Linked DNA regions of Homo sapiens. The protein of the gene in region 1 purifies or fractionates together with the protein of each later gene. This does not show direct contact. Each region holds a gene or a part of one and is shown in the gene's direction. Other genes may lie near its edges. The genes, in order: EIF3CL, NUDT21, CLTB and CLTA.

Evidence for each region.
Region 2: the proteins of EIF3CL (region 1) and NUDT21 fractionate together in Homo sapiens (co-fractionation; one large-scale study listed by BioGRID). This does not show direct contact.
Region 3: the proteins of EIF3CL (region 1) and CLTB purify together in Homo sapiens (affinity purification with mass spectrometry, with the first as the bait; one large-scale study listed by BioGRID). This does not show direct contact.
Region 4: the proteins of EIF3CL (region 1) and CLTA purify together in Homo sapiens (affinity purification with mass spectrometry, with the first as the bait; one large-scale study listed by BioGRID). This does not show direct contact.

The regions. Positions count from the first base shown.
Region 1 is NC_000016.10:28,399,316-28,406,349, reverse strand, and holds the start of EIF3CL (eukaryotic translation initiation factor 3 subunit C-like protein), read left to right. Parts: upstream 1-2,508; 5' UTR 2,509-2,563; exon of another isoform or gene 2,564-2,612; intron 2,613-2,701; 5' UTR 2,702-2,731; coding exon 2,732-2,832; intron 2,833-4,745; coding exon 4,746-4,811; intron 4,812-4,953; coding exon 4,954-5,143; intron 5,144-5,365; coding exon 5,366-5,491; intron 5,492-5,680; coding exon 5,681-5,735; intron 5,736-5,863; coding exon 5,864-5,973; intron 5,974-6,351; coding exon 6,352-6,479; intron 6,480-7,034. UniProt on the Homo sapiens protein: Component of the eukaryotic translation initiation factor 3 (eIF-3) complex, which is required for several steps in the initiation of protein synthesis.
Region 2 is NC_000016.10:56,428,633-56,431,482, reverse strand, and holds the end of NUDT21 (cleavage and polyadenylation specificity factor subunit 5), read left to right. Parts: 3' UTR 1-2,350; downstream 2,351-2,850. UniProt on the Homo sapiens protein: Component of the cleavage factor Im (CFIm) complex that functions as an activator of the pre-mRNA 3'-end cleavage and polyadenylation processing required for the maturation of pre-mRNA into functional mRNAs.
Region 3 is NC_000005.10:176,404,763-176,411,206, reverse strand, and holds part of CLTB (clathrin light chain B), read left to right. Parts: intron 1-383; exon of another isoform or gene 384-579; intron 580-903; coding exon 904-950; intron 951-4,498; coding exon of another isoform or gene 4,499-4,669; exon of another isoform or gene 4,670-5,665; intron 5,666-6,444. UniProt on the Homo sapiens protein: Clathrin is the major protein of the polyhedral coat of coated pits and vesicles.
Region 4 is NC_000009.12:36,196,063-36,202,506, forward strand, and holds part of CLTA (clathrin light chain A), read left to right. Parts: intron 1-1,488; coding exon 1,489-1,526; intron 1,527-2,916; coding exon 2,917-3,034; intron 3,035-6,444. UniProt on the Homo sapiens protein: Clathrin is the major protein of the polyhedral coat of coated pits and vesicles.

The DNA.
Region 1 (7,034 bases):
GTAGAGACAGATATGTTCCAGGTAGACGCACACACACACACACACATACCCTGATCTATATAATTCATATACATATATTGAATATATATATATACACACACACATATATATATACATACACACATACAATACATCTATCTATATCCTTTCTGTCTCTATCTAGTCATTTCTTGGTATCCTCAAGGGATTGGTTCTAGGATTCCTGGGAGATACCAAAACCTGTACATACTCAAGTCCCGCAGTTGCCCCTGTGGAACCTGTAGTTACAAAATTTGGGCCCTTGGTATACATGGGTTTCAAATCCAGTGAATACTGTTATTTTTGATTGACATTTCGTTCCAGATGTGGAACCCACCTGTATGGAGGATTGACTGTATTTATTGAATAAAATCCACATATACGTAGACCTACACATTCTTCAAGAGTCAACTCTGTGTGTGTGTGTGTATGTGTGTGTGTGTGTGTGTATACACAAAGAGAGATACGGAGAGAGAGGGCACAAAGTGACATCTGGAAGATAACGCTATAAACTGACAATTGTGTTTGCTTCTAGAGAGAAAAGCTGATGAACATGAGGTCAGGGCAGGAAGGAAACATTTTTTCCTGTATATTTTTTCTTCCTGTGTATTCTGTTGTACCATTTTCATTTTGTAAAAATGTACACATATTATTTAAAATAAAGAGAGCTGGGCGTGGTGGCTCACGCCTGTAATCCCAGCATTTTGGGAGGCCGAGGCGGGTGGATCACCTGAGGTCAGGAGTTCGAGACCAGCTTGGACAACATGGTGAAACCCCTTCTCTATTACAAATACAAAAATTAGCTGGATGTGGTGGTGCACGTCTGTAAATCCCAGCTACTTGGGAGGCTGAGGCAGGAGAATTGCTTGAAACTGGGAGGCGGAGGTTGAAGTGAGCCAAGATCATACCATTGCACTCCAGCCTGGGCAACAAGAGCAAAACTCCATCTCAAAAAAAAAAAAAAAAAAGATATTTATGGATTTACAGACGTACAATGAACCCCTTGGTTTTTTTTTTTAACTTTTTTTTTTTGGAGACAGAGTCTTGCTCTGTCGCTCAGGCTGGAGTGCAGTGGCACGATCTTGGCTCACTGCAACCTCCACCTTCAGGGTTCAAGCAATTCTCCTGCCTCAGCCTCCTGAGTAGCTGGAATTACAGGCATCTGCCACTATGCCAGGCGAATTTTTGTATTTTTAGTAGAGATGGGGTTTCACCATGTTGGCCAGGCTGGTCTCGAATTCCTGACCTCAAGTGATCTGCCCACCTCTGCCTCCCAAAGTGTTGGGATTACAGGCATGAACCACCATGCCCAGCCTCATATTAAGTTTTGACGGTGCTGGGTGGGTTGTGAGTACATAGATGTCCATTGGAATAGTCTTTATTCTTGTCTGTTGAAATATTTCACAATAAAAAACAAAACGGCCAGGTGTGGTAGCTCATGCCTATAATCCCAGCACTTTGGAAGAGCATGCTCTTCCCTTCCCAGCACTTCCCTGTCCCGCTCCCATATCAAAACCACCTTGAAAAATGTAACACAGTCCCTTGCACTAAAACCTCTGCCGATGGCGGCTCCAAACCACAGGCCTATAAAGACCTGCAAGATCTAGCATCGTCTACTTTTTTTTTTTTTTTTTTTTTTTTTGAGACAGAGTCTTGCTCTGTCACCCAGGCTGGAATGCAGTGGTGTGATCTCTGCTCACTGCAATCTCTTCCTCCTGGGTTCAAGTGATTCTCCAGCCTCAGCCTCCCACGTAGCTGGGATTACAGGCAGGTGACACTGTGCCAGGCTAATTTTCGTATTTTTTAGTAGACACGGGGTTTTGCCATATTGGCCAGGCTGGTCTCGAACTCCTGACCTCAGGTGATCCACCCACCTCAGCCTCCCAGAGTGTTGGAATTACAGGAGTGAGCCACTGTGCCTGGCTAGCATTGTCTACTTTTTTTTTTTTGAGATGGAGTTTCGCTTTTGTTGTCCAGGCTGGAGTCCAGTGGCTCGATCTCGGCTCACCACAACCTCCGCCTCCCGGGTTCAAGCGATTCTCCTGCCTCAGCCTCCCGAGTAGCTTGGCTTACAGGCATGCACCACCACGCCTGGCTAATTTTGTATTTTTAGTAGAGATGGGGTTTCTCCATATTGGTCAGGCTGGTCTCGAACTCCCGACCTCGGGTAATCCGCCTGCCTCGGTCTCCCAAAGTGCTAGGATTACAGGCGTGAGTGAGCCACCGCACCCGGCAGGATTATCTACTTCTATACTATTAATGCCTATTAATGCTGTAATTACACGCGTGAGCCACTGCGCCCCGCCGATCTTCGTGTTTTAAATCCCGACACCAACGCGCGGTAGGATTCGCGACGCCTGCAGCCAAGGTCTCAGCGCCCGGTTCCCTCAGGCTTGTCCCCGCCCCCTTATGGCGCGAAGGCCACTGGGAGTTGTAGTCTCCCAGTGTAGTTAGTCGGCGCTTCCCGGAAGTGACGCGAGGACCCGCCTTCTCTCTCGGCGTTTCCGCTGTCAGGGCCCTGCGGTGTGACTCGCGGGCTCAGCTGGTTGGTATTTTTTGGGCCTCGTGCTTCGTGGTGGGAGACCCAGGTCGAGGTCCGGGTGGGGCCGGTGAGGGGTTGGGCGTCGGGAGGTGTTGGCTCGGGCCTCTTCGCGTGGCCGGTGACGCCTTGGCTCCCCCGCAGGTCCGGCCGTAGCACCTCCGCGCCGTCGCCATGTCGCGGTTTTTCACCACCGGTTCGGACAGCGAGTCCGAGTCGTCCTTGTCCGGGGAGGAGCTCGTCACCAAACCTGTCGGAGGCAACTATGGCAAACAGTGAGTTGCGGGGGCTGTGGCTGTGACCATTCTGGGAGTGCGGGGTTAGGCAGGCTGTGGAACGCAGTGCACATGGGAGGGGATGGAGGTGAGGGCGGGGAGAGTGGGTTTGGACAATGACCAGAGTTTGCAGGATCGGAGCGGTGTTGGAGAGAGACAGCCTTAGAGGGCTGTGATAGCCGGTAGCCACCCACCAGGCACAAGGGATAGAATCACAGAGGTTTCCCAAGCCAGATCTGTTGCATCAGCTTCTTAACTGGCCTTAAGTCTACAGCCTCTACCTGTCTCCTCTCATTTTACCGCCGAGAAGTCCTTAGTGACTTCTCACTGCTCACAGAAGGAAATGCAAAATGCTTGATTGGTATCTGGGAGCCCCCTGATGCGACTCTGAAGTCTGGTCACCTGCTGTGTACGCAGGTGCTTAAACATTTTATATGCCTGTTCACCTCTACGTAAATACCCATCCGCCATTTCTGTACATTAATTTTTTTTTTTTTACCCTTTGGAACAATAGAATGGTTTTTCTTTTTCCTTTTTTTTTTCTTTTTTTGAGGGGTCATAGCTCACTGCTGCCTCGACCTTCAGATCTCAAGCGATCCTCCCACCTCAGCCTCTCAAGTAGATGGGACTACAGGTGCACGCCATCGCAGCAGGCTAATTGTTTTTAATTTTTTGTAGAGAAGGTGTCTCACTGTGTTGCTTAGACTGGTTCTGAACTCCTGGGCTCAAGTGAACCTCCCGCCCAGCATTCTAAAGTGTTGGGGTTACAGGAATGAGCCACTGTGCCCCACTGGAATGGTGTTTCTTAAACATCTGCCACGTTTGTGCTACTGTTTTAAAAGTATGTATTGCACATGTATATGCCAATATGCATATGGTTTCGTATCACTTCCACAGGTGGAAACCAGTGTCATTTGCCATAAAATACCAAATAATCCAGGCTGGGCAGGTGGCTCAAGCCGGTAATCCCAGCACTTTGGGAGGCTGATTACTTGAGGTCAGGAGTTTGAGACCAGCATGGCCAATAAGGTGAAACCCCGTCTCTACTAAAAATACAAAAATTAGCCGGTTGTGGTGGCACATGCCTGTAACCCCAGCAACTTAGGAGGCTGAGGCAGGAGAATCTCTTGAACCTTGGAGGCGGAGGTTGTAGTGAGCCGAGATTGCGCCATTGCACTGCAGCCTGGGCGATAAAAGCAAAACTCCACCTCAAAAAACACCGCTAAAATAATCCAAAAAATAATAAAAAGGGAAAAGAGGCAGGCAAGATGGTGCATGCCTGTAGTCCCAACTACTCTGGAGGCTGAGGTGGGAGGATCCCTTGAAACTCAGGAGTTGGAGGCTGCCTGGGCAACATAGTGAGACCTTATCTCTTAACAAACAAAAAGAGTAGAGATACTGTTGCTGACTGTGAGCCTGTGGTCTGGTCTTATTATCGTAGAAAAATACTAGCAGTGGAGGTGTTAATACCATTGAGACTTTCTCCTTGCTGTTGGCCTCTCATACTTTGGGAAATGTTGCTAAGATCTAGTTTAGGTACCACCTCCCTAAAGCCTTTTCTGTTCATTATAGCTCAAGTATCATTTTTCTCTACCTCTTTTTTTATTCATTACTTCTGTGGTGACTTGTGTCTCTATGTCATTAGTTACACAGTAAATTAGCACTTTCATTTGTTTTTGAGAGGATAGTGAATGTCATCTTTGTGTTGCTACAACACTGAGCAAAAGGCCTTACTTAGTGTACACTTAAAAGATTGAGTTGTATATGAAGTGGCCCTGAGGAGGAGTCAAAAAGAGGATGGGTGTGGTGTGGATGGCCTGGATTACTTAGTTCTACCTGTCCTGAGTAGGGAAATACGGATCTCTTGGAAAGACTGGGAAAGGAGGTTAATGGCCTCTGTTCCTTCCAAACAGGCCATTGTTGCTGAGCGAGGATGAAGAAGATACCAAGAGAGTTGTCCGCAGTGCCAAGGACAAGAGGTAAAGCCATGGCGAGGCTGGGTGATGGGAGTCTCTGGGAGCAATGAAGCTGTGGGGAGGCTGGGTGATAGGAGTCTCTGGGAGCAGTGGTGAGTTTTCCCTCGGTGGGCACGTTCAATGTGGTATCGGGCTCCCAACCCAGGTTTGAGGAGCTGACCAACCTTATCCGGACCATCCGTAATGCCATGAAGATTCGTGATGTCACCAAGTGCCTGGAAGAGTTTGAGCTCCTGGGAAAAGCATATGGGAAGGCCAAAAGCATTGTGGACAAAGAAGGTGTCCCCCGGTTCTATATCCGCATCCTGGCTGACCTAGAGGACTATCTTAATGAGGTGTGATGCCTATATTTATTACCACCACTTATTCATGGTTTTGTACTTTTAGTGGTGGGATGTATAGGATCTTTTAAAAATAAGCTAACAGATGTAGTTAATAAGTAGTACCAGTGGTGTTCCAATAGCAAGACTCAAAAGTGGAGAAGAAGCCTGGAGTTTAGGAAATGTTACTTAGTTTCAAATCACTGTTCTCTGTTTCTTTCCTCTTCTTCCCTTTAGCTTTGGGAAGATAAGGAAGGGAAGAAGAAGATGAACAAGAACAATGCCAAGGCTCTGAGCACCTTGCGTCAGAAGATCCGAAAATACAACCGTGATTTCGAGTCCCATATCACAAGCTACAAGCAGGTGGGGAGGCTAGAGGCACACTTACTGAACTGGGAACAGTGACCCCGTGACTGAGGCCCAAAGATGGAATTGCTAGTGGGAGGTGTGACTGGAGCAGGAAGATGACAGAACTGTCTGGGGTGGAGGGGTGGGGTGGGCTGATGGCTGGACAGCGTCCATGATTGTTCTCTCACTTCCCTCTCTGTCCAGAACCCCGAGCAGTCTGCGGATGAAGATGCTGAGAAAAATGAGGAGGATTCAGAAGGTGAGCCAAAGAACCTTTGTTGCAAATAGGAAGTCCAGAGTTAGTGTTGCCCTTCGCCTGGTTTCTTGGCTGCCCTCCAGTCTGGCTTTTCAACATTCAGGATCTTTTTCTCCCTCCATTACCACTAGGCTCTTCAGATGAGGATGAGGATGAGGACGGAGTCAGTGCTGCAACTTTCTTGAAGAAGAAATCAGAAGCTCCTTCTGGGGAGAGTCGCAAGTTCCTCAAAAAGATGGATGTAAGAGCCAGGGTTAGATGGATGATTTCCTGCCAGAGGTAGTTCCTGAGTCCCTGGGGGAAAAAGACAAGACTCAAACCCCTAGGGTTGGGAGGGGTGGAATTTAGTGGAGTTGAGAACAAGCTTCCTCTTACATCAGAGCAGTGGGCAAACAGGGATCTGGGCCCAGCTCTGCCAGGGGAAGCTGTGTGTGTTCCTGCGGCCAAATTGCAGCATCACTCTGGGACTTGATGGTGAGTCCCAGCCCTTGGTATCTTGATTCCATGAGTAGCTGCTCTTGTTCTACTCATGTAAATAAATCTCGAACATGCGTTAGTAAGGAGGAGACACCAGTCAATCTCCCTGTCTTCTTGCTGATCCTCTTTTCTTCCCTCTAAGGATGAAGATGAGGACTCAGAAGATTCCGAAGATGATGAAGACTGGGACACAGGTTCCACATCTTCCGATTCCGACTCAGAGGAGGAAGAAGGGAAACAAACCGCGCTGGCCTCAAGATTTCTTAAAAAGTAAGGAAAGTAGTGGGACCTAGGGTTACACTGGAACTGGTGGAAAGCTCTTAATTGTCTGGAAGGTTATTGATTCTTCCATGGAGTCCTTTTAGGTTGGAGCAGCCAACTGTTAGCATTTTACAGTAGGATCAGAGAGTCAAGTACATTAGTTGGCTAAAGTCACGAAGCTAATGTGTCCTAAAGATGAGAATTGAAGGCTCCAGAGTCCAAATATTTACCCACAGCCTTACTCACTGCGTGTGGATTGGGTGCAAATCTCACTTTGGCACCCGATACCTGTGTGACATTGGACAAACTACTTAGCCTGTCTAATCTTCAGTTTTCTCATCTGTAAAATAAGGCAGGGAACCCTCCCTTCCAGAATAGCTGCAGGAATACAGGGAGGTGTGATGTAAGAAAGTAGTTCATCTAGGACTGACGTGTGGTGAGCCCTCAGTGTGCGTTGCTACTGTGTTACCCTTCCTGATAACTTCTTAGTACACATACAGCATACAGACTGCCGCAAGTGTTCATGACCTTTACTGGGACAGTCAGAATAGGGGAGGATCCCAG
Region 2 (2,850 bases), about 28 Mb from region 1:
GGTGATGTCAAAGGTATATGATACTTGAGGAAATCAGGCCAAGTGTAGCTGAGCAATTAATAAACACTCAAGTTTTTTTAGTTGGGGTCATGTCAAACCCTCACATGGTGGTTAAGTAGTGACTAACTGTGCATGTCCTTCATGGTAGGTGAGCACCAGTCTCCATGATCAAAAATGCCCCAGTTTCCTTTGAAAAAGCCACTAGTTCTGTGAATTGTCCTTTTCCCTCCTGCCCCTAACAGTCCTACCCCTCTAGCCTACATTAGCATATTTCTCATGTAATGTATTTTGCTGGTAAGCTCATCCATTAGCTGCGTCCTTCAGCTATTCCTTTAGATTGGAGGAAGTGGATATGAAGATGGATTGATTCAGCTCACCTTCCATGATTGCTTTTGAGGGAAAAGCTACAGTGGCCACATTTCAGATGTTCACTTTTGCAATTTGTGGAGGGTGGAGAGAGGTAGACTTTTGTTGTGTGTTTTATAAAGTACTCTCAGTAAGGAGTGTTTGAGTTGAAGAGTCATCTGATTCGAGGCCACTCATGTTCTTTGTAACTTAAACTTTGACCAAGAAATTCTTCACTTCTCACTTCTTCACTTCTTCCCAATATACAGTAAGTACGTGAGCCAGTCATCCATACACTAAGGCCTAGTTGAGAAAAACCTTTGATTCAGGATGGCTGGGTTACTAACCTTGAAATGTAAGAGATCTGGTTTTGAATGTAAAAGTTGCAACACACAAACGGAAGTCTTAAAAACTTTTTGCTCTGGTCAGTTACAGGTGGATCCCCAATAATCTGTTTTTGGTTTTCTGATGGAAATAATAGAATTAGGGGAAATCAAATCTGGTTGGTAGGTGTCTACAGTATTAGAAGAGGGTATAAGGGCACTGTTTAACACTAAGTTCTAATACTTCCAGAAACTGTGCATTCCAGATCTACATACTAAATGCTCTTATCATTTTGAAATGGGCTCTTGATTAATAGACCCATATTTTTTAGTGGCTTCTATGTTGTATATTTGTCTAAAATGAAAGCTCTTTTGCGTTCTAAAACTACAATATATGTCATCTTATTTTCCCTGAGTATCCAAGTATAGTGCAGATTCTATGTAAAACTACTAAATGACACTGGAATATGTTTAGTAGATTAGGGGGAAAAACTATAAAGGTTTATACAATTGTTTGTAGTTACATTTAGGATGGACTTATCCCTTTGGAGAAGAGTGAAGTTTGTTTTTTCGCCATGTGATGAAGACCACTGTGATTTTTTAAAAAAGTAGATAATACTTAAAATGGCGTAATAATTCTGCACTTGAATTTGTACTGTTAACAGCACATTTGGAAGATTTTAAAACTTTTTATTGTCTTATAAATAGCATTCACTTATTATTTTGGATATTTAAGGGTTCCATTAAGTTAACACTGTATTTGGACAAAGTGTGACCAAATTAGCCAGTCTGTTTTCTTCCATGTTTAATTAGAAGTGAGAGGTAGAAGTACTTCAAATTCAACAGGCCAGCAAGCAATCGGCTTAAAATTCCCTTTCTTAAATGTTGTGCTCTTATGTTCTCGGCTTTTTAATGACTTTATTTTTACAGTACTTGTTCAGTCACTTGAGATGAAATGCTTGGGGTAGCTTTTCCATCCTCAAACTTAATGTTTTTACTAGTTCATAGTGTTTGGAACAGTATATGCCAATCACTGAGACTGCATCAGAGTTTGCAATTTTGTATGTTTCATTGCCAAAGAAGGCTTAGTGGTTGTTGACTGTAGTATAAGTCAGCTTTCTGTAGCATAAGATTTGATTTTCCCATACTTACTTCACTTGTTATACATCACTGATTATTTGGGTTAAACTGGACTCATTTCAAGCAGTTTGCTTTTGTTCAAATCGTGATGAGAAACCTAATACTGTAATTTGATTTGAGCCATAAAACACATTTTAATATTAGCTTGTATTATAGTTATTAAGCTTGTTTTTGTGGAAAAAAACTTACTAAAACCTAGGTAACTCTAGATTAGGCCAGTTCAGGTGTATTTTGTATCTTAGTAATGGATCATATCGTAAAAATAGAGATAAGTTGGGAAGATATATTGATTATGCTGTTCTGTTGAGGGAAAGGTCATGTATTTAGAAATTTAAACTTTTGGTTATTGTGTTCACATCATAGTATTCAAGCATCATTTATAGTTTGGTTTTGAGAACTTTTCTGGTATTACGTTTATGGCAAATGTATAAAAGAAACAAGTTTTGGTTATATTTTTATATTTGTAAAGTAAGTTTGGTTAAAGTGATCACTGTTCTTTTTTTATTTTATTGTCATTTCAATAAAAAATATTTGAAAGAGAATGACTCTGTGATTGTTTTGGGATAGTAGTCCTGTATGTGTGGCTGCTGATCCTACTGTGCTAGTAGAAATCTTGCATGGTTCGTCACTGTGAGTGGCCGAGGGCCTTTAGGTAAGAGACAGCTTAGCATAATAGCAAGGGCCTGATGGCCTGGGTCACTGATGTTGCCCTCTCCTTGTGCCCCACACACTCCCTCCTCCCATTGTGTGTTAGCAGTGTTTCAGTTTCCTGAGGTGTGAAAGGGTCACTAGATTTGGAACATGAAGGCCACAAGTTAGAAGTTGCTACACAGTTGTGTTAACTGTGTGTAGTCCATATCATTGGGGACTGAGTCCGAGTTTCCTCATCTGTAAAGGGAGGGTTGACTCCTTTAGTTTTTTTTCTCAAACTTGCCTGGAATTCATAATGTTCTATGACACACACCATACCTGCTGCATATGTAATACTGTGTAATTCAATGTTATCTTAAATAGAAAGTTTACCCAAAATACGGGAATATAT
Region 3 (6,444 bases), on another chromosome or scaffold:
CAGTCGTTGTCTTTCTTTCATGCATGTATTTACTTGTTTATTCAACAAATAATTATTGAGCACCTGCAAAGTCACAGGTGCATGCAAGTCTCTGGGAAAGACACAGGAGAAGAGAAAGAGACACAGTTATGTCTTCCCAGGTGTTTGCCCCTAGCGGGCAAAGCAGTTGTGCAGGTGCAAGGTGGTGAGGTCCTGGGCTGGGGCTGAGCTGCGGGAGAGAGTGGAGGGCAACTGTGAATGTCAGTGTTGTAGCAGAAGCCCCAGGAATTTGTGACTAATCAAATGTCAAGGAAAGGGACAGGGAGGAGTCACTGCTGAGGGCAAACTTAATTCCTTCTGGGAGGGGCACAAAGAGAAAAAATATGCCAGGTGCTTCTGGTGGGAACTGCAACTCCTGCTCACCCAGGAGGAGCAGTTGCTCAAGGCGCCTCAGGGACAGGCAGAGACGCGTAGGCCCCTCTCTTCCTTATCCAGTGTAGCCCCTGCCCTGAGCTTACAGCAGCTCAGCCTACTCACCAGGCACAGGCTTCACAGGTAATCTGGCCATTCCCAGCCATGGCCAGGGGTCAGTGATTTCAGGTAGGTAAGGAGCTATTACTGGCTGGGTGATTTTGAGCATGGCCTCTCTGAGCCTCAGCTTGAGTATCTGTAAAATGGGTTGACAACAATTTCATTGCAGGGCTGTGGTGAACATAAAATGTACTAATGGCTGTGAGAGGCTTTATAAACAGTCAGGGGTGGGATTGAGCCTAAGTTATATATATATCCATTATGTCTGTTTGCATGTGGGTCGATATATACATGGGTATACACAGAGTTTGGGTTGAGGGGCTAATGTAGGACCATTTCCTGCTTGCTATAAGCTAAACAGTGAGTAATGCTATCTCCTTGTTCTCTTTCCAGCTGGTTCTGAGGACATGGGGACCACAGTCAATGGAGATGTGTTTCAGGTAAGCAAGGCTCTGTCTCAGCAGTGGTAAGGACCAACAGCCCTGGTCTCAGTAACCTAAAGCCTCATTGTTGTAGGCTTACAGCTCCAGGTTCTCCTGTTCATTATGTCTGATGCATTGGGGTGGAAACATAGAGAAAGGTTTTTGGAATTTTTTTTGTCATGTAGAGGGCAGGGAAGAAGAATAAGGACCACTAGAGATCGAGATTGATGGGCAGTAGCCTCAGGTTGCCCATGGTGATGTCTGGTTTTGGGAGGGAGAGGTCAAGTGGCCCACAGCAGCATGAGATGAAGGCAGCGCAAGGCCTTCCCTCACCACTGACGGGAGGCAGAACCCAGGCCATCTCCACACACAGGGCGGGCCCTTTGATCCAGAGATTCCACTTCCAGAATTTTCCCAAAGGAAATAATTGGACAAGGCCACCCAGATTCTTTGCAGGGTTATTTATAATGGCAGACAATTTGGAGACAACCTAAGTGTCCAGCATCAGGGAACTGAATAGATAGATTAGAAAACCAGGCTGTTGTTAAAAAGGGCAATCAGGGCCGGGTGCAGTGGCTGACGCCTGTAATCCCAGCACTTTGGGAGGCTGAGGTGGGTGGATCACGTGAGGTCAGAGTTCAAGACCAGCCTGGCCAACATAGTGAAACCCCGTCTTTACTAAAAATACAGAAAATTAGCCAGTCATTGTGGCAGGTGCCTGTAATTCCAGCTACTCGGGAGGCTAAGGCAGGAGAATCACTTGAACCCAGAAGGTGGAGGTTGCAGTGAGCTGAGATTGTGCCATTGCTCTCCAGCCTGGGAGATGAGAGTGAAACTCTGTCTGAAAAAAAAAAAAAAAAAAAAAAAAGGGCAATCAGATCTTCCTGTATTGACGTGAAAAGATGTCCACAATATATTAAGTGGAAAAAGCAGCTTGCAGAATAATATACACAGTATGGTCCTTTTTTTTTTTTTTTTTTTCAATTTTAAAAATATGTTTGGGCTGGGCGTGGTGGCTCATGCCTGTAACCCTAGCACTTTGGGAGGCCAAGGCAGGTGGATCATGAGGTTGGAAGATTGAGACCATCCTGGCTAACACGGTGAAACCGCACCTCTACTAAAAATACAAAATTAGCTGGGTGTGGTGGCACAAGCCTATAATCCTAACTACTTGGGAGGCTGAGGCAGGAGAATAGCTTGAATCCGGGAGTGGGAGGTTGCGGTGAGCCGAGATCACGCCACTGCACTCCAGCCTGGGCAACAAGAGCAAAACTCTATCTCAAAAAAATAAAACTAAAGGTTTGCACTACATATCTGAAAGGATGTGTACCAGCTGTTAACAATGGTTAGCCCCAAGGGTGGGGTGGGATGGGGATAAGAAAGGGGCATTCACTTTCACTGGGTTGTTTACAAATTCTTTAAGTGTTTTTATCCTGCAAAAAACGAGGAAAACCCAGCCGGGCACGGCGGCTTACGCCTGTAATCCCAGATTTTGGGAGGCCAAAGTGAGAAGATCATGTGAATCCAGGAGTTTGAGACCAAACTGGGCAACATAGTAAGACCCCATTTCTGCAAAAAATGAAAAATTAGCTGGGGCAATAGTGTGTGCCTATAGTCCCAGCTACTCAGTAGTCTTAGGTGGGAGGATTACAGCTTGAGCTGGGGAGGTCCAGGCTGCAGTGACTATGATTACACTACTACACTTAGCCTGGGTGAGTCTTTTTTTTTTTTTTTTCCTGAGATGGAGTTTTGCTCTTATTGCCCAGGCTGGAGTGCAATGGCACGATCTCGGCTCCCTGCAGCCTCCGCCTCCTGAGTTCAAGTGATTCTCCTGCCTCAGCCTCCTGAGTAGCTGGGATTACAGGCACCCGCCACCACGCCTAGCTAATCTTTTGTATTTTTAGTAGAGATGGTGTTTCATCATGTTGGCCAGGCTGGTCTCGAACTCCTGACCTTCAAGTGATCCACCCACCTCGGCCTCCCAAAGTGCTGGGATTACAGGCACGAGCCACCGTGCCCGGCATGACAGTCTTAAAAAAAAAAAAAAGAGGAAAACCCTAGTAAGTGTATTTCTAGTTAAGACTGCTTCTGTCCGCACCCACCTAACTCTCTTCCCCTTGCATACACACAAATCCATTTTAGTACTCTGAGGGAACTCAGACCACAGAGGCATGCAATAGTCCTCACCTCGGCCCCCCAGCCAGATGCCTGGTGGGGCTAAACCTCCCCTCAGAGCCTTCATTCCCACTCAGACTGGGCCAAAGAGCCTTGATCCTGGGGTCTTTGGCTGTGGGATCTTCTGAGCCCCGCCCTGGAGGAGCTGGCTTCTTGAATCCTCTGGGGGAGTAAACAATACTTATTTTCTTATGTAAGAGGGATGGGCTGGTACCTTATGCAGGGAGACTGGCCAAGTCCTGTTTCTGGAAAATTACTCAACTATCAGCAAGCTGGAAAAGTCCATCTCTAGGACTTCAGCAGCTTCATGTCTAGTTGGGCCCGAGGGAGTCAAAGAATGAGGATTTGCTTCTGTGCAGCTTGGTAGATCATTAAGACTTAGGCTGCCCAGGCTCTCTGGCCACATTCAGAAGGACTTTGCTTGACCCCACAGTTCTGTGTCCTAAAGTGCACCTGGAGCTGGAGATATGCTTGGAACCACAGAAGTATGTAGAACATGGCCGGGCACAGTGGCTCACGCCTGTAATCCCAGCAGTGGGAGGCTGAGGTGGGTAGATCATTTGAGGTCAGGAGTTCAAGACCAGCCTGGCCAACATGGAGAAACCCTGTCTCTACTAAAAATACAAAAATTGGCTAGGCAGGGTAGTGGTTGCCTGTAATCCCAGCTACTCAGGAGGCTGAGGCAGGAGAACTGCTTGAACCCAGAGGCAGAGGTTGCAGTGAGCTGAGATCGCACACTGCACTCCAGCCTGGACGACAGAGCGAGACTTTGTCTCAAAAAAGAAAGTACCTAGAACACTCTGAGCTGGATCATTTACCTTTCCTAAAGATTAGCATCACGAAGCTCAGAGAGGTGAAGTGGTGAATGCAAAGTCACCCAGGAAATCAGCCACTTCTGGAGTGCACCCCATTTGACTTGGCCCCCCGCCTTCTCCCTCCCGACCTGTCAGCCGTGGGTGAGCTGTGGGTGAATCTGAGGAGCCCGGGGCCTCCTTTCCAATCTGAGTGAGAACTCTTATTCTCACTGTTACTAAGAATCACAGCAGGTGTGTTTATTTGTAAATCATATCACATCAGTGCCATCCGAGAATCCTTACAGGCAGGGCAGGGTCACAGATGAGCTGAATCACTCAGAAGCTTAGTGGCAAAGCCCCAGCTTGCCTACATCTCCTGGGCTCCGACCCGGTGTGCTTTGCATTACGACTCTGTTGCTGGAACTGGCTGGCCACAGCGCCTGGGTCACAGGTGGAAAGCCCCAGCTCTTTAGGATTGAGCATAGCAGGTCTGGCCTGCACCTGCAGGGGGAGGAGAAACCTTGGCCTGTGCACACCCAACACTTTCAAGGATCCCAGACAGAGCTTTTGTGCTTCCTTTCTTCCTCTTTTCTGCAGCCCGTGCACCACCAGCGGGTCCAGCTACAAACCCAGTTGCCAATACAGCCTAAGGACGAGCCTGCCCACAACTATTCCAGTTCCATTTGGCACAGCCAGGGGCAGGGACAGAAGGGCCCTGCAGGACTCCGCCTCCCCACCTCTGCACAGATCCTCTCTCCTTTCCCCTAATACTCCCATCATCCTCCTTTTAGCTTCTTAGAGGAATCAGCAGCTCAGCTTAGCTTAGATTTAGCTGATCAATCCCAAAGAAGGATGTGGCTCATCCTCTTGGCCATCCCTGGAGTCGCAGCACACGCTTGGCTGGTGTGGGTCCACAGAGGTTCTCATGGGTGGGCCCAGCAGAGGGGCCCCTCAGGAGAGGGATTCTAGGGAGCTAGACTGAGACAAGCCTGGCCCTGACTGTCGCCTCCTGCCTTCTGGTCCTGGCCATTCCTGCCCCTTTCTCTCTCCAGAGCTTGGGAGGAGTCAGAACATTGCTCTAGCCGCTGGTGATCTCTCCTGGTTGCCAACCCTCCTGGCCATGACTGATCTCCCCACTGAGATGCTCAGGTGATTAAACGAGAGCCCAGTTGTGGCCCGTGACACTGTCACTGGCAAGGGTAGGGGTGGGGACAGGGGCAGGAAAATAAGTTCTGAGCAGCCCGGAAATAATGAGTGGTGACTGCTTCTCGGGGCTTTGCCTGCCAGCAGCACCACTGTGCTCTCCTGGTCATGGTGCACGGAGGGCCAGCAGGTGTGGGGCCCTGCCACACCGGAACAGCAGGCCACAGCAGCCATGCTGTCCCTCATACGCACACGCCCTCTATGGGCTGCAGAGTGTTACCATAGCATCTCGTAAGCCTCACTTCCCACCGGTAGTAGGATATTGTCACTCATTTAACAGGTTTGAAAGCCAAGCTGCCCAGGGAAGGGACTTCTCAAAGGTCGCGAGTCCAGTGAGTGGCAGAAGGGGGATGTAAAGCCCAGCCCCTCTGATGGAGTGTCCAGCGCTCGTCCCGTGCCCTCCACGCCCCTGTGTACCCAGCTACTTGTTTATTCATTTGGTTTATACGTTTGGTCGTTCATTCATTTGGTCAGTGCACATTCTTTTATGGCCACACACCTGCTAGGGCAGTGAATAAACGGATATGGAGGCAAATCCACTGGATAGTTTGTCTCCAAAGAGCTCTCTTTTTTTTCTTTTTCTTTTTCTTTTTCTTTTTTTTTTTTTTTTTTTGAGAGACAGGGTCTTGCTCTGTAGTTGAGACTGGAGTGCAGTGGTGTGATCATGGCTCACTGCAGCCTTGAGTCTTGGGCTTAAGTGATCCTCCTGCCTCAGCCTCCTGAATAGCTGGGACTACAGGGAGGGCCACCATGCCTGGCTAATTTTTTAATTTTTTTATGGAGATGTGGTCTCGCTATATTGGCCAGGCTGGTCTCGAGCTCCTGGGCTCAAGCAGTCCTCCTGCTCAGCCTCCCAAAGTGCTGGGATTACAGGTGTGAGCCGCTGCACCTGGTCCCAAACTCGCTTCTAATAGAAGACAGGGAAAGAAGTGAAAGAAGTGAATGGGAGCCCAGGAAGGTGAGGGCTTGGCTTTGGGGAAGCATTAGGAGCTAACAGATTGAGTTCTTCTCTGTGTAGGCACCAGCCAAGGGCTTTACGTGCTTGATCTCCCTGAGTCCTCCCAACTCCCTGTGATGTTGGTTGTCATTATTCCTGTTTTATACAGGAGGTTTAACAGCTCGCTCGAGTTGTGTAGCTAGTAAGAGGTAAAACTTGAATCCAGGATCAGGCGCCAGAGCCTGCACTAAAGTTAGGGAATGCAACTGTGAGGGGACACTGGCAGGGGGTTCTGAGGCTGCCCAGGGGGATGTGGGTGGCCTTGGCCAAGGCCAAGGGAAGAGCATGTGCAAAGCCACAGAGGGTCGGTCACTCATTCCGGGGTTCACCGGAGCCCGGGACC
Region 4 (6,444 bases), on another chromosome or scaffold:
GTCAGGAGTTCGAGACCATCCTGGCCAACGTGGTGAAACCCCCGTCTCTACTAAAACTACAAAAAAAATTAGGTGGGCATGATAGCTCACGCCTGTAGTCCCAGCTACTCAGGAGGCTGAGGCAAGAGAATCACTTGAACAACCCAGGAGGTGGAGGTTGCAGTGAGCCAAGATTGCACCACTGTACTCTAGCCTGGGCAACAGAGCAAGACTCTCTCTCAAAAAAAAATAAAATACATATCCTGTGATCCAGCAATTCCTTTTTTTTCTTTCTTTTTTCTTTTTTTTTTTTTTTATTTTTTGAGATGGAGTCTCGCTCCGTCACCCAGGCTGGAGTGCAGTGGCGCGATCTTGGCTCACTGCAACCTCTGCCTCCCGAGTTCAAGCAATTCTCCTCTTTCAGCCTCCTGAGTAGCTGGGATTACAGGCTCATGCCACCACCCTGGCTAATTTTTGTATTTTTAGTATATGGAGGTGGGTTTCACCATGTTGGCCAGGCAGGTCTTGAACTCCTGACCTCGAGTGATCCTCCCACCTTGGCCTCTCAAAGTGCTGGGATTATAGGTGTGAGCCACCGCGCCCAGCTGTAACCCAGCAATTCTACACCAAGAAATTTATTACAGAGGCGAAATTGAATATGCTTCCCCCATGCTTTCACTAGTTTGATAAACTTCATATTTCCAAAACTTTATAGAGTGCTTAAAAAACTACATAGGTAGGTGGCACATGCCTTAAAGTGGTAAAAGGCCACTGACAAACTATAAGAAACTCATTTTTGTACTGACATATAGGAGTAAAAGTCAACTAGGAAAATTAAGAAAAATATGAGAGGCCAGGCATGGTGGCTCATGCCTGTAATCCAATACTTTGGGAGACCGAGGCGGGTGGATCGCTTGAGTCCAGGAAATCGATAGCAGCCTGGGCAGCATGGCGAAACCCCCTTCCTACAAAAAAATAGAAAAATTATCCAGGCGTGGTGGCGCATGCCTGCAATCCCAGCTCCTGTGGGGACTGAGGTGGGAGGTTCGCTTGAGCCCAAAAGGTCGAGGCTACAGTAAGCCATGATTGGGCCACTTTGCTCCAGCCTGGGCGACAGAGCAAGACTGTCTCAAAGATGAAGCTGCAGGTCTCTGCTCACTATGGGTGATTCCAGGCCACACTTTTTTTTTTCCCTCATGCAGAATTTTCATAGAGAAACACTGTTCTCTTTCTGCTAGTCTTCCATTTGTTACCACTGTAAAATAGAAAACAGAAAATAAAATCAAAAGCTTTTGGACTTGGGAGCTTAAGGACAGATGTGTACACATTTTGGTGAAATTTGTATATAAGCACATCTTGGTTTTATTTGTTGTATATAGCACCTACCACAGGGATAGCATTTAGTAGCTCAAGGTTCATACAGCATATGATGCTGTATTCTACTGTACAACCCTTTGGCCCAGTGTTTGACCAGTCCTTATTGATAGACCAAAATCTTATGTCTTGCAGATGCTGTTGATGGAGTAATGAATGGTGAATACTACCAGGTACAGAGTACTCTGATTCTGTTCATTGATAGTGATTGAGAATCTTCCTTTCCTGTGATTTTAATTGACTGACCTAGAAAGAAACCCCAGTCCTTTGACTTTCCTGAATGTATTACTGGCTGGTGTGTTATCTACCAAAGTGGAAAGATTTAAAGAGAGGTAGCATTGATAAAAAGAGAACTGTTTAAAAATGTTATTTACCTGCCCCTAGTGTTATCACCTTTATTCTAAAGAAATCACCATTCAAATGATACTGTGTTGAGTGCAGTAAGTTAATACTAATACTTTAAATAATTCTCCTTCCATCTTTGTTTATAGTCTGATTAGGTTAACCTGGTAATATTAATATTCCTTAGTTCAGTGAGTGGCATATGGAATAATTTTGTAAAGATTAACATTTATTTGAGTCTTTTTTTTTTTTTTTTTTTTTGAGACAGTCTCACTGTCGCCCAGGCTAGAGTGCAGTGGCACGATCTTGTCTCATTGCAACCTCCACCTTCTGGGTTCAAGCGATTCATCCACTTCAGCCTCCTGAGTAGCTGGAATTACAGGCGCATGCCACCACGCCCGGCTAATTTTTTGTATTTTTAGTAGAGATGGGGTTTCGCCATGTTGGCCAGGCAGGTCTTGAACTCCTGGGCTCAAGTGACCATCCCGCCTTGGCCTCCCAAAGTGCTGGGATTACAGGCGTGAGCCACCGCACCCCGCCAGAGCCACCGCAACCTTGGCTCACTGCAGAACCCGTTTCTAACAACAATGGCGGCTTTTGTAAAATGTTAAAGGATTACCTTAAAAGCAACAACACAGGCCGGGCACGGTGGCTCACGCCTGTAATTCCAGCACTTTGGGAGGCTGGGGTGGGTGGATCATTTGAGGTCAAGAGTTCGAGACCAGCCTGGCCAACACAGTGAAACCCGTCTCTGCTAAAAATACAAAAATTAACCAGGCGGTAGTGGCATGTGCCTGTAATCCCAGCTACTGGGGAGGCTGAGGCAAGAGGAGAATTTGCTTGAACCCGGGGAGTAGAGGTTGCAGTTGGCCAAGATTGCGCCACTGCACTCCAGTCTGGGTGACAGAGTAAGACCCTGTCCCGTCCCCCCTTCCCCCACCCCAGAAAAAAAAAAAAAAAAAAGCAACCACATAGGCCAGGCGCAGGCACCTGTAATCTCAGCTACTCGGGAGGCTGAGGCAGGAGAATTGCTTGAACCCGGGAGGTGGAGGTTGCAGTGAGCCGAGATCGTGCCACTGCACTCCAGCCTTGGCGACAAGAGTGAAAACTCTGTCTCAAAAAAAAAAAAAAAAAACAGAACCAGGGGTTCTAACTCAGGTGAAGTGCATTTTAGGAAGGAATTTTTGGTATTAATATAGCACAATTGTGTTTTGTGTTAAGGAAAGTAATGGTCCAACAGACAGTTATGCAGCTATTTCACAAGTGGATCGATTGCAGTCAGAGCCTGAAAGTATCCGTAAATGGAGAGAAGAACAAATGGAACGCTTGGAAGCCCTTGGTAAGGAATCCCTTCTGTGTTTTGGTGTCTGTTTTCAGTGGAGTAGTTGAGCTGGACTCTACTTTTATTCCTTTTTAGCTCACATTAACCAGTGTCATTGTCTGGTCTTTGGGAAGATATCTTCTCAGCCTGAAGGTTACAAGGCTACCTGCACAGAGATGCCTAATCACAGGCCATTGTGTGAGGAGTAGGGTAGCCGGAGATCCCCAAGATCCTCTCACAGGAAGAGCATAGTGATGCTGCTCCTGACCTCAAGAGTAGCCTCAGGTGGTGTTTATAGAGTGCTTTATAAACTTGAAGGATTCAAGTTTCCTATGTCCGTGGACTTTAACAGTCCATTTTTCTTTTTTCTTTTTTCTTTTTTTTTTTTTGAGATGAAGTCTCACTCTGTTACCCAGGGTGGAGTGCAGTGGTGCGATCTCGGCTCATTGCAAGCTCTGCCTCCCGGGTTCACACCATTCTCCTGCCCTCAGCCTCCTGAGTAGCTGGGTCTACAGGCGCCCGCCACTACGTCCCGCTCATTTTTTTTTTGTATTTTTAGTAGAGACAGGGTTTCACCGTGTTAGCCAGGTTGGTCTCGATCTCCTGACCTTGTGATCCACACACCTTGGCCTCCTAAAATGCTGGGATTACAGGCGTGAGCCACCGCGCCCGGCCTCCATTTTTTATTTGAAGGCTAAATGAATTTAAAGTAACACGAGGAAAATGAGGTATGTTAGGAAAAAATGTACAATTTGTTTTTCCTACCTTAATATCTCTGTAAGGTAAGTTTTACAATTTTACAGGTAAGAAAAGTGGAGGAGAGGTAGAATAAGTATTTGGAATACTCAGCTAAGGAATGGTAAGAGTCACAATTTCAGCTGAAGTCTGCCTTGCTTCAAAGTCACTACCCATCCCCATCAGCCACATTGCTTTCTAAACATTTAATGTGCGTGGCCATCTAGCCACACAGCCTGGCCTTTGATAAAGAGATGTGTACGTGGAGTGTCACCTGTTGGTTCATGATCAGGGGAGACTTGTGTCTGTACATGGTGGATTGGAGAAGTATGCAGAGTGTGAGGATATAATCCACATTGTGGCCTTTTCTTTGTTTTTTCTTTTTCTTTTTTTAATCAGCTGACTTTAAGATTCATCTTTTCTCAACTTTACAGAACAATTGAAAGGAGGAAAATAAACATGTGCACCCCCAGATTCAGTAATTAATGGATTATCTTTATATAAATGATATGTTTTAGACATACACACACACAAATTGTTTTGGCTGACCTACTTTAAGATAAAGACATCATATACTTTGTGTCTAAATATTTCAATGTACACCTCCTAGAAATAATGACATTCTCCTATGTAACCACAACGTCAGCAGTATTATTCCCTCTTGGGAACTGTTGAACTAGTGAAAACATGAGTCCTTATTTTTCAGATGGGATAACTGACACCCAGAAATAGGAAGGGACATGACCCAGATGACACAGCCAATTAGTGCCAAATCATTTATCTCTCTAGTCCAATTTAGGTGGCTTTCAGAACAAAGAATGCACTTAGTATTTGAACCTTTATAGCACCATTCATTAGTGATTTCTTTGGTGGAAATATTCTGTATCTGTGCTGTCTCGTATGGTAGCCACTAACCACATGTAACTGTTAAGTACTTGAAGTGTGGCTTCACAATTCAAGTGTGACTGAGAAACTGAATTTTAAATTTTCTTTAATTTTAATAAATTTACATTGAAGTAGCCACATGTAGCTAGTAGCTACCATATTGGACAGTGGAGCTGTAGGAAGATGAAAATAGGTCCTAACAGCTTTGGTCCTTGCTTGTTCTTTGTGTCTCTTGAGTATGCTTAGAGGCAAGATTTAGCTGGTCTTAGTACTGCTGTAGTATTTTTCATGTTACAGAACCCAAATTTATCTTTTCTGTTTTACCAAGCTCTAGCAGTTTTTCTTCTCCATGGAGAGAGTCTACTTTGGTGTCTGGAAAGATTTAATTTTTCAATTATGAAATTGGGTACTTGGGGAATACTCTTATGAGCTGTTTTCTTAATTCAAAGTGCTTTTTTTGAGAGAAGTACAACATTTGGCCTTGCATTCCAACTGAATTGAATTCACTTGGTTCATGAACAAGGTGTTCCTTCAATTTCACCTTTTTTCCTTGCAAAAACTGTGAGAAAGCACGCGATGCTAAAAATAGAGAACCGGTGCCAGTGGTTTTCAGCCTAGCTGCTGGCTACATTCTCAAGTAATTTTCTTTTCTCTGACCAGTAACGAGGGTGGCCAGAAGGGAAGGCACCTGTGAATGTGCTTTGCTCTCTAAGGGGACTCTTCCTCTTCATCCTCTGAGGGGAAGAATTCTAAATTAGTATTGCAGTGGCACTAAAGCTGCAAAAGCCAGAAGACCAATTTAAATGTACTATTTTATGCAGTAACCACAGTCTGTTCAGGAGGTCACCATTTTTATTTAATTTCATTTTTCAGAGATAAATTTTATATTTTAGTCCTAATGTATAGTAAATGTTAACATCAAAATACATTGAAAGAAAATACTGTCCAATCAAAAAGGTAATTATTTGGAAGTAATTTCACCATGATTGAAAAGGGGGCCTTACATTTTGAATTAGGTATTGTCACATGGCACTTCCAGCCCACAGCTTCTCATTGCAGCATAGCTAAATCTTGCATTCCACATCTGTACTTCATGCCATGGATAGACACATATTAGATGTTTACTGTAGAGGCTAGGTGGTGTGGCTCAGGTCTGTAATCCCAGCACTTTAGGAGGCTGAGGTGGGAGGATCACTTGAGCTCAGGAGTTCAAGACCAGCCTGGGCACCATAGTGAGACCCTATCTCTACTAAAAAAAAAAAATTAGCTGGGGGTTGTGGTGCACGCTTGTGGTCCCAGCTGCTTAGGAGATTGAGGTGGGAGGATCACTTGAGCCTGGGAGATTGAGGCTGCAGTGAGCTGTGATAGAACTACTGCAGTACAGCCTGGGCTACAGAGCGAGACCCTATCTCAAATAAAACAAAAAAAAGTTTACTGTATATACTTTAGAGTCATCAGTGAAAAATCTGAGAAAATGATTCTTCTGAACGACAGATCACCTTCCGACAAATTAGATACCGAGATGAACGTTCCTACTAACCTGAAACTTGGGGGAGTTTCTAGCTGCTATTAGGCTTTTTCTTATAGTTACACACAGCCTTTTGCAGGTTGTTACTATAAGACCTTTCTTGCAAAGGCCCTAAAAATGCCCAAGAATACTTCATTTTTCATCCCTTCTAGTAGTTACTTGACACCGCTACTGCTATCTACTCTCCTTCTCAAAGACACTAATTACAGTTTGGGCTCTTGGTCTGCACTTTCAAAACTCTGTCCAGATCACTGGTGGTCACGTTTTGTGATTATTTCTA